Linked DNA regions of Homo sapiens. The protein of the gene in region 2 interacts with the protein of the main gene of each other region in a pairwise test. Each region holds a gene or a part of one and is shown on either strand. Other genes may lie near its edges. The genes, in order: KLHL23, BNIP3L and HTR2B.

The links.
Region 1: the proteins of BNIP3L (region 2) and KLHL23 interact in a two-hybrid assay, tested with the Homo sapiens proteins (one large-scale study listed by BioGRID and IntAct).
Region 3: the proteins of BNIP3L (region 2) and HTR2B interact in a two-hybrid assay, tested with the Homo sapiens proteins (one large-scale study listed by BioGRID and IntAct).

Annotation. Positions count from the first base shown.
Region 1 is NC_000002.12:169,743,811-169,747,466, reverse strand, and holds part of KLHL23 (kelch-like protein 23), read right to left. Parts: intron 1-3,656.
Region 2 is NC_000008.11:26,389,521-26,393,176, reverse strand, and holds part of BNIP3L (BCL2/adenovirus E1B 19 kDa protein-interacting protein 3-like), read right to left. Parts: intron 2,765-3,656; exon of another isoform or gene 2,660-2,764; intron 1,935-2,659; coding exon 1,751-1,934; intron 1-1,750.
Region 3 is NC_000002.12:231,118,523-231,122,178, reverse strand, and holds part of HTR2B (5-hydroxytryptamine receptor 2B), read left to right. Parts: intron 1-3,656. UniProt on the Homo sapiens protein: G-protein coupled receptor for 5-hydroxytryptamine (serotonin). Also functions as a receptor for various ergot alkaloid derivatives and psychoactive substances.

The DNA.
Region 1 (3,656 bases), on a different chromosome or scaffold from region 2:
AAGTGATTTCCTCTTTAGGAGTGGAAGACAACTTCTTACCAGTAAAGTTCTCCCTCAGTTTTTTTTTTTTTTTTTTTAGAGACAGAGTCTCGCTCTGTCTCCCAGGCTGGAGTGCAGTGGCGCAATCTCGGCTCACTGCAACCTCTGCTTCCCGGGTTCAAGTGATTCTTATGCTTCAGCCACCCAAGTAGCCAAGATTACAGGTGTGCACTGTAGCTGAGATTACGGGTGCGCACCACCATGCCTGGCTAATTTTTGTATTTTTAATAGAGATGGGGTTTTGCCATGTTGCCCAGGTGCTAGTCTTGAACTCCTGGACTCAAATAATGCACTGAGATTACAGGCGTGAGCCACCGTGCCTGGCCCTCCCTAGGTTTTGACAGCTAAGGAAAGTCTTAGAAGATTGCATTTTTGCTTCATTTCCACATATTTTTCTCGTTACTGACATCCAAGAAAATAATTATCCTACTTGTTAAAAACTCATTTTTTACTTTCCAGTTATTTATATGTTGAATTTTTATAGGATTTACTTGTTTCAAGTACTTGTGAAACACTGCTTATATCAATTATATGAATCATTCAACTAATGGTTATTGTGAAAATGATAGTTCAAATATTTTATCAGTTGGTAAAAGTGATTCAACATCACTCACTAGGCTTTTCTTAAATTACTTGAAGTTTATCAAAACACCCCAATTTTTGATTCATATGTTAAGAAAGCCATCTGTCTTCCTATAGCAGTAAAAATATTTAAGTAAAGTGATTCCTAATCATTTTTTCTCTTTTACTCAAATACAACACATGTTCTATTGTTGTGGATAGGAACTTTTTCTTCCTGAGCTGTAATTGCGTTTTTTCTTGTTAGTTAACCCCTCTAAGCCACTGAGGCTCTGGGACTGTGCCTTGCTCACTGTGCTCCTAGCACTGAGTATATAGCAGCATGTAGGATGCACACAGCAGATATGTTAGACATGAATGAGTGAACAAATGAATAATCAAGAATGGGAGTGACACCATCTGTCACGGCTCAAAAGTTTACACAGAAGTATAAAACATCAACACACAGCAGTCTGTATTCAGTGTTAGATGAGTGATATGAACAAACAGCTAGAGGGATTCAGAGAAAACCACAATATCCATTTGAATTGATTTCAATTTTTTTTCCTAAGATCTTTTCTCATTGAAGAGCCTGTAAAGTTTATGTAGTCTAACTTTCTGATTTCACTGGAAGGTAAGGCCCAAGAGCTTAGTCTACTTGCCGATGGCAAGGCAGGTAAATAAATGGCAGGGCCAGGAAAGTTCTCTCCCCACTTCACACAACTCTCCACAGGTCCTCCTTTATCACATACTGCTTCCTCTCGGCTCTTCACACCCTCTTGTTCCTCAGCTTATCCCTCAACTCTGCCCGTTTCCTAGGATTCTGCCCATAGCTGTATTGCTGGTCCCACCCTACCAAGGCATCTTATTCATCCCCATACCCAGAGCCACCATCCAAGCAAACAATCCCCAGATCTCTACATTCAGCTACCTCCCTCCTTCTCAGCTGCAAACCCACATTTCCCTTTGCCTGCTGGACAGCTCTTTTGGGTTATCCAATGATTCCTTTGCTCTAAACTATAAAATCGAGCTCATCATCTCCCCTCTTCTCCCTTCCTGTCAGCTTCTCCTTCAGTATACCTCATTCTCTCAGACAACCGGCCAGAGACCCTGAGACGACTGTCAACTCCTTTCTCTCCTTCATCTCCTGTATGCTGTCAGCCAAGGAAGCAATCAGCTGTTGAATCTATGACATTCCTCACATCGGCCCCTCTTTTCTACTCCTACCACTTCTTCAGGCTTTCAGCATTTCTCCCTTGGTTAAACACAATAGTGTTAGTAGATCCCCTTGCTGTCTTTCTCCCAATCTACCTAAAAGGAGTTCTCTTCCTTTTTTTTTTTTTTTTTTTTTTTTTTGAGACGGAGTCTCACTCTGTCACCCAGGCTGGAGTGCAGGGGCACGATCTTCAGCTCACTGCAAGCTCTGCCTCCCGGGTTCACACCATTCTCCTGGCTCAGCCTCCCGAGTAGCTAGGACTACAGGTGCCCGCCACCATGCCCAGCTAATTTTTTTGTATTTTTAGTAGAGATGGGGTTTCACCATGTTAGCCAGGATGGTCTCGATCTCCTGACCTCATGATCCGCCCACCTTGGCCTCCCAAAGTGCAGGGATTACAGGCGTGAGCCACCGCGCCCAGCCAAGAGTTCTCTTCTTAAAACCAGAGCTGGGCCAGGTGCAGTGGCCCAGTGCTTTGGGAGGCTGAGGCGGGTGGATGACTTTAGGCCAGGAGTTCAAGACCAGCCTGGCCAACATAGTGAAACCCCGTCTCTACTAAAAAAAAATACAAAAATTAGCCAGGCGTGGTGGTGCATGCCTGTAATCCCAGCTACCTGGGAGGCTGAGACACAAGAATCGCTGAACCCAAGATTGTGCCACTGCACTCCAGCCTAAGCAACAGAGCGAGACTGTCTTTAAAAAAAAAAAAACAAAAAACAAAAACCTAGAGCTGATCACACATCATTCTCTTGCTCGAAAACCTTTATGATTCTGCATTTTAAAAATTACCCAGACTGAGCTGGTTGTGGTGGCTCAAGCCTGTAATCCCAGCACTTTGGGAGGCTGAGGAAGGTGAATCACAAGGTCAGGAGTTTGAGACCAGCCTGGCTAACACGGTGAAACCCCATCTCTACTAAAAATATGAAAAATTAGCCGGGCAAAGTAGCAGCGCCTGTAATCTCAGCTACTTGGGACGTTGAGGCAGGAGAATACCTTGAACCTGGGATGCGGATGTTGCGGTTAGCCGAGATCACACCACTGCACTCCAGCCTGGGCAACACAGCAAGACTCCATCTCAAAAAAAAAAAAAATTACCCAGACTGCCATTCAAAGCTCTCCATGACATGCTCTCCAACTGAACTCTCCCATCCGATCTCCCATTCTACCCTCTTACATTCCATTCATTCATGTCTGCTCCCAGGTAATGGAATACACCTGAAACTTTCCTTTCCACCTTCCTCCACTGGGCTGACTTCTTGCCAGAAAAACCCTTCCTCAAAAACTACCTTCCTTATTTGGGGCCATTCTTTAAGGCCCAGCTCATAACCACCTACCGTTGGAAGCATTCTAAGATAGTCAGATTTCCCTTAATTAGACTTACACTCTTTTTATTCTCAATTTCAATAGCACTTGTTTTTACAGAACTTAGCAGAGACTGTCCTGTATTTCCATTATGTATGTATATTTGCTCCTGGATTCTGAGCTCCTACGGCAGTAAAGACTAACACTTAATCATCTTACATAATTATCAGAATCCTACCTTTTCCAATGTAGGGTCTCAATAAATGTCACCTTGAATTCAATGCAACTATAGTCCCATGTTTTCCAATTACACAAACTACCCCATTAAAGGGGTTAAGATAAAATATAATACTTATATTATCTTTAAAAAATAATAGTAGTCATTTCTTCTCAGTGTAAGCAATGTATCTCTATGAAGTCAACTCAAGGATGACATTTTAATTCCTCAGGAGGTACTGCTAAAATCCTTAAGAAACAAACCTTGCTATAATTCAGTGGATGCAGATGCACAGCCTTCAAGAGCTTAAGGATTTAACAGACT
Region 2 (3,656 bases):
TGGCAATTCAGATGATGTGAGTTTTGAAGACACTCCTCAATGGTAAAGCGTGTTAGTAGGCTATCCCAGAAGACTCGAGTTCTAGCCATTCTCTGAAAGATGACCACTAATCTAGGGCCTGGAGAGACATAAGATGAGGGGTACGAAAGTGTTCAAAAGCATTTGCCATGCCTCCTCATGGCAACCTAAACTTAAACATGATCATAGGAGGGTGAAGGCATATTCAGTCACACGTAAAACTGCACCATAAATGAAGTAAGATGAACAGACAGGTAAGCAGGTGACTGTTCTCTGCTCATTGACAGCACCATGTGAACAACAGGCTCATGGACACCATGGTATCAATGATCAAGGCCCACACACCTGAACGCAGAGTGAAAGCCTTGTTGACAGGCCATAACAAGCAGAAAACTTGAGAAACCCATCAGCAAGTTCCATAATATAAATATAAATCTTCATTCGGAAAGACAGACTAATGCTGTAGCTACTGGAATCAAGGGCAAGCTGTTCAGAAGAGAGCCATCTGCTCTGGTTCCGCTTATGACAAGAGCCATCCCAGGCTCTAAGAAGCACAGGGACAAGTCAGGGATGACACGGGGGTGGCGGGGGTGCACAGTGTGCCACAGAGCCAACAAACCAGTCCCCCGCTGCCTTGGCAACATTAGTGGATCATAAGCCACTCAGGAAGTTGGACATGATTTAACTCATTTCTCCTTTTTTTCACTTCTTCTGATAAGTAATAATATGTGCAATATACACAATTTTTACAAAATACAAAAATGTTAAGAAGAAACATATCCATACTGCATTCCTAAAAATAGTCACTGTTTACATTTCCTTAATCTGCTTCCCGTGCATTTGCATTTTCTAAATGGTTAACATCAGTTAACAACCACCCAGAAGGTCATCCAGTGCCCCATAATGCTAACAGTGTAGCTGTCACTGAAACAAGAATTTCTTAAATGTCATTTAATATCTAGCCCTTCTGAAAAAAAAAAAAAAAAACAGAAAAGTTTATACTAAAAAATAATGACCTGGTTTCATTCCACACACATATCTCGTTGTATTCTTACTCTTTCACCATAAGCAGTCCTTAATCCATGTAATTAGTTTCTTCAGCTCAAATATAGAAAAATGAGGTCTGAAACAAAACATCCCCTGAGAAAGCAGAGGAGACTTCAAAACTATCTTTACAGACCTTGGTTGGTGCTTCCAACTGTGCAAATATTGCTATAACGTGAAGCAACCTGCAGTTCCTATGAATCAAACATTTACTGAGTGTCTACTACGTGCCAGCACCATTACTGTGAAGGTAATAAAAATTAAACATGGCCCCTGCCCTTTGCAACGTCAACATCTAGAAGGGAAGACACATATATACAGAGGTAACTAATTCAAGAACAGTCTGTGATCTGTAACACAGGGACACAAAGGAAAATGGGGGAAAGTCAGATTAATTCTATAAATTAGCATTTATGCCACTGAATTTTAAACTGATAAACTGCTAGAAACAATATAATCTGGGTAAGAAAAATGACAATCTGGGGAAAAACAGTGGGCACTGAAGCACCTGTCAATTAGCTGTCTCATATAAACACAATATATATCTGTGCAATATATATTATACTACAATATATCAGGAGGCATATTTTGCTAAGTGAAGATTTAAGCAAACAGATTTTTCCTAGAGTGAATGAGCCCTGTAACCCACCTGTTTCCTGAATTCCACCAAAACATGGGTCTCACTTACCTGTCACAGTGAGAACTGCCTCTGGAACTACTCTGTCCTGATTCATGTTGTGCATCCAAAAGAATCTTCTCCATGTCTCCATTGTGGATGGAGGATGAGGATGGTACGTGTTCCAGCCCCCCATTTTTCCCATTGCCATTATCATTGCCATTGCTGCTGTTCATGGGTAGCTCCACCCAGGAACCTGTTGGACAAGTCAGATAAGTTAACCACAGCAGAACTGAAATCTGTCATGTGCACACAGATGTGAACATGGTGAATCCAGATAAGAATTCTGACTCTCCTCAAACCAAATGTAAAAGTATTCTGAAGAAAATAAATAAGAAGTAATAAAAGTCTAAAGATCTATATAGTTCTGTTCCTGAAATAGCTCATGCCATCAACTGAGAAACAGCTCAAACTCTAAAACATCTCAGAAAACGTGTTTTTCAGTCAATTTCTCTCTGGGTAAAGCTTGGTTTATAATAACACTCTACTGAAAACTCAGGTTGCTTTTCAAAAAAAAATTGCTACTTTTAGGCTATTTACCTTTAACATTTTAGTTGGTGTATATATACACACACACTTTCTTCATAGTCTACCTAAGCTGCTCAGCTGTATCTGCTCCAGAAATGAAATAAATATATCACCTACAAATTTCATAAAAGGTCATCTAAGTAAGTTAGCAACTATATCCTACTTAGTGCAAACAACTGAGAAACTCCTAGAGAGGGAACCTAAATCCAATAGCAAAAATTTCAATTTGTGCACAAATCAGGAGCATAAAATTAATGCAGCTGGTTAACTAAATCAGGTAATAATGCTAAAAATTCAGAAAAAAGCTTTATCTCTATCTCACTGATTAGTTTCTTCATTTCCTTTGTATCTCAGGCTTTCTAGTCCTTCTCCTTTTTTATACACTAAACATACCTTGTGAACTTGTCTTTTTTCTTTTCTCTCCCACGGGTTTCTACTTTCTAGGGTTTTCATTAAACCCTGTTGATTTGGGAGCAGAAACAACTGCACATCAGCTACAGGCAAACACGAAAAGTTTTCTTGGACAAAAAGTTGAAGGGGTGGAGCCACAGAAAAAGGGGATGTGCCACTGGTAATTCTGCATACATCTTGAAAATATTTATTGGTCTGATGAGTTTGCTAAACGTATTAAGGTGCTTTAATTTTAACAAGAGTTGAGGCCAGGTACAGTGGCTCACACATGTAATCCCAGCACTTTGGGAGGCTGAGGCACCAGGATTGCTTGAATCCAGGAGTTTGACACCAGCCTGGGGAACATGGCAAGACCCTGTCTCTACAAAAGAATAGTAAGTAAGTAAGTAAATAAATTGTTAACAGTAGCCAATAAACTTAACTTCACAGCAAAAAGAGATAGTGGTATATTTTGTTCATAATTTCCATTTCTTACAATAAATTTTGTTTTAGAAAATGTACCCAAGCAGCTTGGTGTGGCCATCCCTCTAAACTCCCAGCAGAAGTGTTAGAGAGTTCCAGGGATGAACAAGGAGTTCCATCAGTAAGTTGAAGTAAAATCATCAAAACTGGCTCAAACTCTAAAATGCACTCTAAATGTGGCGATGGCTACACCAGTTCCAGAGTGAACTGAACATCACCCTCACAAGAAGGAAAGCTCCAAGGCAGACCTAGCTGGGAATCTGACCCCATCACTTCCTGTCTACCTGTGTGACCTGAGCTTCAGCTTCCTCATTTGTAAACAGAGATAATAATAACACCGGGGTGCTGTGACGATTTAGTAGTATCAAGTGCTGGTAAATAGAAGATGCTCAGTTATACACTAGAATTTTCTTTTATAAATACTTAGAACCCTTTCCTTTCCATTTGAGGCAGCCCCAGTGGCTACCACCATCCCATAGTCACCACCAATTCCTTAGGACTCTGCTGCCAAACGACA
Region 3 (3,656 bases), on a different chromosome or scaffold from region 2:
TACTGCTTTAATTAGACTTTCTAATAATTAACAGTCTTTCTATCTCCCTGTTTTATAAATTTGTAATCTTTTAAATAATCTAATGCTGCATGAAACCATGAAAAATAATTAAGAAATCTTACTATAATAGAGAACATAACCCTAATTCTGAATAAAGCTTAAAAGAAAGTATTATGTAGAAATATATATGCATATTTGATAAATACTGTACAGGCATATGATTCTAGCTCTCATCTCCATGTGCATAATAGTAGCTTAAGATGTAAAATCATACTCTTCAAACTGTGCTTTGCTAGGCACACAGAAAATGTCAAAATGCTTATTTCAGACTACCATAAAATTTAATACGTCATTCAATACATGATATTGAAAGAATTATGCAGAAGTGAATTTTAGCTTTAAAATCTTTGAGTCCATAAATATCAAACATCTATTATATGCAAAGTACCATGGTAGATACTTAAATTATCAGCTAAATAGTTAAGGAATCTTAAAAGGCAAAGTACCATAGAATTAAAGTGAGCTAACAAACAAAATACAAAAACAGGTAACAAAGATTTACCTGTTTAATAGATTCCATGTATTCTATAGAAAAATAGGTATCCAGCAGCTGAAAACTTTAAGTGTATATTTAAAATGCTGGTACCCAACATATCCTTAGCAATACAAGTTAGCAGAAAACCCAACATATGTTAACATAAAATATGTGAAATGTCTTCATATTTATGTCTTAAATAATTGATAGACATTTTAATATTATTTCATTCTTCCAAATGTTTATTAACTTTAAATTTATTTTTATTTATTTATTTTAATAGAGATGGAGTCTGGCAATGTTGCCTGGGCTGGCCTCAAACTCCTGGGTTCAAGTGATCCTCTGCCTTCAGCCTCTTAAGTAGCTAGGATTACAGGCACATTCCACCATGCCTGGCTCATGTTTGTTAATTTCTAATTACAAAATAAAATATTTTATAGCCCCAAACACTTTTACTATCAGAAATAAGTTGTATAGTGGGGTTTGTAGATTTTTAAAAAATGAACAAATCTGTGAACTACTATCTAATACATTATTGCATTATTTAAAGCATAATTCAATTTCTATGAAAAAATGTAGGAAAAAAACACATGTTGCCCTCTAACAAACTTCAAAGGATGAATTCATAAATTGGGAACTGCATGTATTACAAATGGAAACCTGACTTCAAATACCAAGATATTTTTATAACCTTTTGCAAGTTAATAAACACAAAGATTTTTCTAAACTAATGCATTTATAAGAACTTCTGATAACTTTAAAAGGCAGAATTAGACTTTACACTCTTATTGTAGTGTTAATCTTTAGGACTTCTAACGTTTGTACAAACAAGCGTTCTTGGTTCTATGATAAAAGATTAACTATCACTATGAGCAATAATTTTAGCTATCGCAGGGGAATTCAATGAAAGTAACACAAAAACTATACTAGCTCGTAGTCTAATAAAATGAAATTTTAAAAATAAGAGCAGTAAAATATAAAAGTGGACCTTCTGTCCTTATACTGAGAGATATTTTATTCAACCACTGATCTGTATAATATTTAACAATATACGGTTTGAATTCATATTTTCCCAAGATTATGACAACTCAGGCACAACATTGTCTTTCAAATGAGTTGTGCTAGGTCAATTTTTCTGCCACTTCTTCCTATCTGGGAGCACTGGACTTGATCTTTACAGTTGTAGTTTTTTATTGTCTTGTCCATAATTCCTAAAATCCATGATCACAAATCAACAGCTTATAACACAAGGCTTGAAAATACCTACGTTAGAAATACTTGAGCAAGAAAACAACACCTTATGCTGATATAAAAAAGACAGGATGTTCACCATTTAAGAGCTTCTCTGAATCTTTGTTTCATTTTATAAGTGATTTAAAAAGTAACAGGGGAGGCTGGGCACGGTGGCTCATGCCTGTAACCCCAGCACTTTAGGAGGCTGAAACGGATGGATCACCTGAGGTCAGGAGTTCGAGACCAGCCTGGCCAAGATGGCGAAACCCTGTCCCTACTAAAAATACAAAAATTAGCTGGGCATGGTGGTACGCGCCTGTAGTCCCAGCTACTCGGGAGACTGAGGCAGGAGAATAGCTTGAACCCGGAAGACAGAGTTGCAGTGAGCCGAGATGGTGCCACTGCACTCCAGCCTGGGTGACGGGGTGAGGCTCTGTCTCAGGGAAAAAAAAAAAAAAAAGTAACACGGGAAGATATGGCATCTGGCCATCCATTGGGTGTTATTGGTTTATTTATAAGTTTTTTTTTTTTTTTTTTTTTTGAGACGGAGTCTCGTTCTGTTGCCCAGACTGCAGGGCAGTGGCATGATCTCAGTTCACTGCAACCTCCACCCACAGGTTCAAACGATTCTCCTGCCTCAGCCTCCCGAGTAGCTGGGACTACAGGCGCAGGCCACCACACCTGGCTAAGTTTTGTATTTTTAGTAGAGATGGGGTTTTGCCACTTTGGCCAGGCTGGTCTTGAACTCCTGACCTCAGGTGATCCACCTGCCTCGGCCTCCCAAAGTGTTGGGATTACAGACATGAGCCACCAAACCTGGCTATAACTTAAGTTTCAATTGATGCCTCATGATCTATAAGTTCAAACAGTATCCGTGGTATAGCTGAAAGAGTATATAAAATGGCTGAAAGATGGCTGTTTGAAGCAAGACATCCCAGGGTCTGAATCCTGGTTCTCCCGTGTTGGATCAGGCAAGTCACTTATTATTTCAGAGTTCAATCACTTATTATTTCAGAGCTCAATCACCTTGTCAAGCAGGGCCCAGCATCTTATAAGCACTAATAGTAACTGGTAGAGTACTGCATGCAAATTAAATATGATTTAGTTGAGATGCAAGTCTAATCAGAGATGAAACAAATGTATAGCAGTAAGAGAAAAATGGCAGTTATTCATTTATGCAGTAAAATGTTAGCCTACCCAATTCTGAAATGGAGGAGAAAAGCAATGAATTAAAGGCACTTCTTTTTGTAAAGTGGAAATTTTAAAAACCAGGAAAAAATTCTGTAAGCATTAAAATGCTTAAAACATTTAAAACACTATCATATTAGACACTGAACCCCAGGATAACTCATATGCTCAAATGTAGTGAAAAAAGTAAAAAACAAAACAGAAACTTTTAAACAATAATTTGAACTGAACTATGTCTTTCTTTTCTGGAAGATAAAGACAGAAGCATTAGAATTTCTGAGATAAATGTATATTTGAAAATTATGTTCTTTTTGGACATAAGAAGTATTTATGATTTGTCCTGCTGCAATAAGTTCATGAACTGAGTACCTCTGTAAACTATAGGAACAGCCCACTTGGAATGCCTTTAAAAATAGTCTTTTACATCCTCCAAAGGGAAACATTTTATGTCCCAGATTTATGGACTGATGCTAATTATTTTCCGGACAAATAGTGTAACCTGACTTCCCAAACTAAAAAGCTGCCCAAAGGTTAAGCAGGTTTCAGATAAAATAAGTCTGCCTCATCAAGATACGGGGTTTCTAGTAAAACTCCTCAGGTTTTTGTACTAATTCAAAAGAAAGCAAAAACAAACAAAAAAATACCCAAACCAACAAAAAACCCAGGCATGCAATGCATACAGGTTATTTTCCTGTACCGT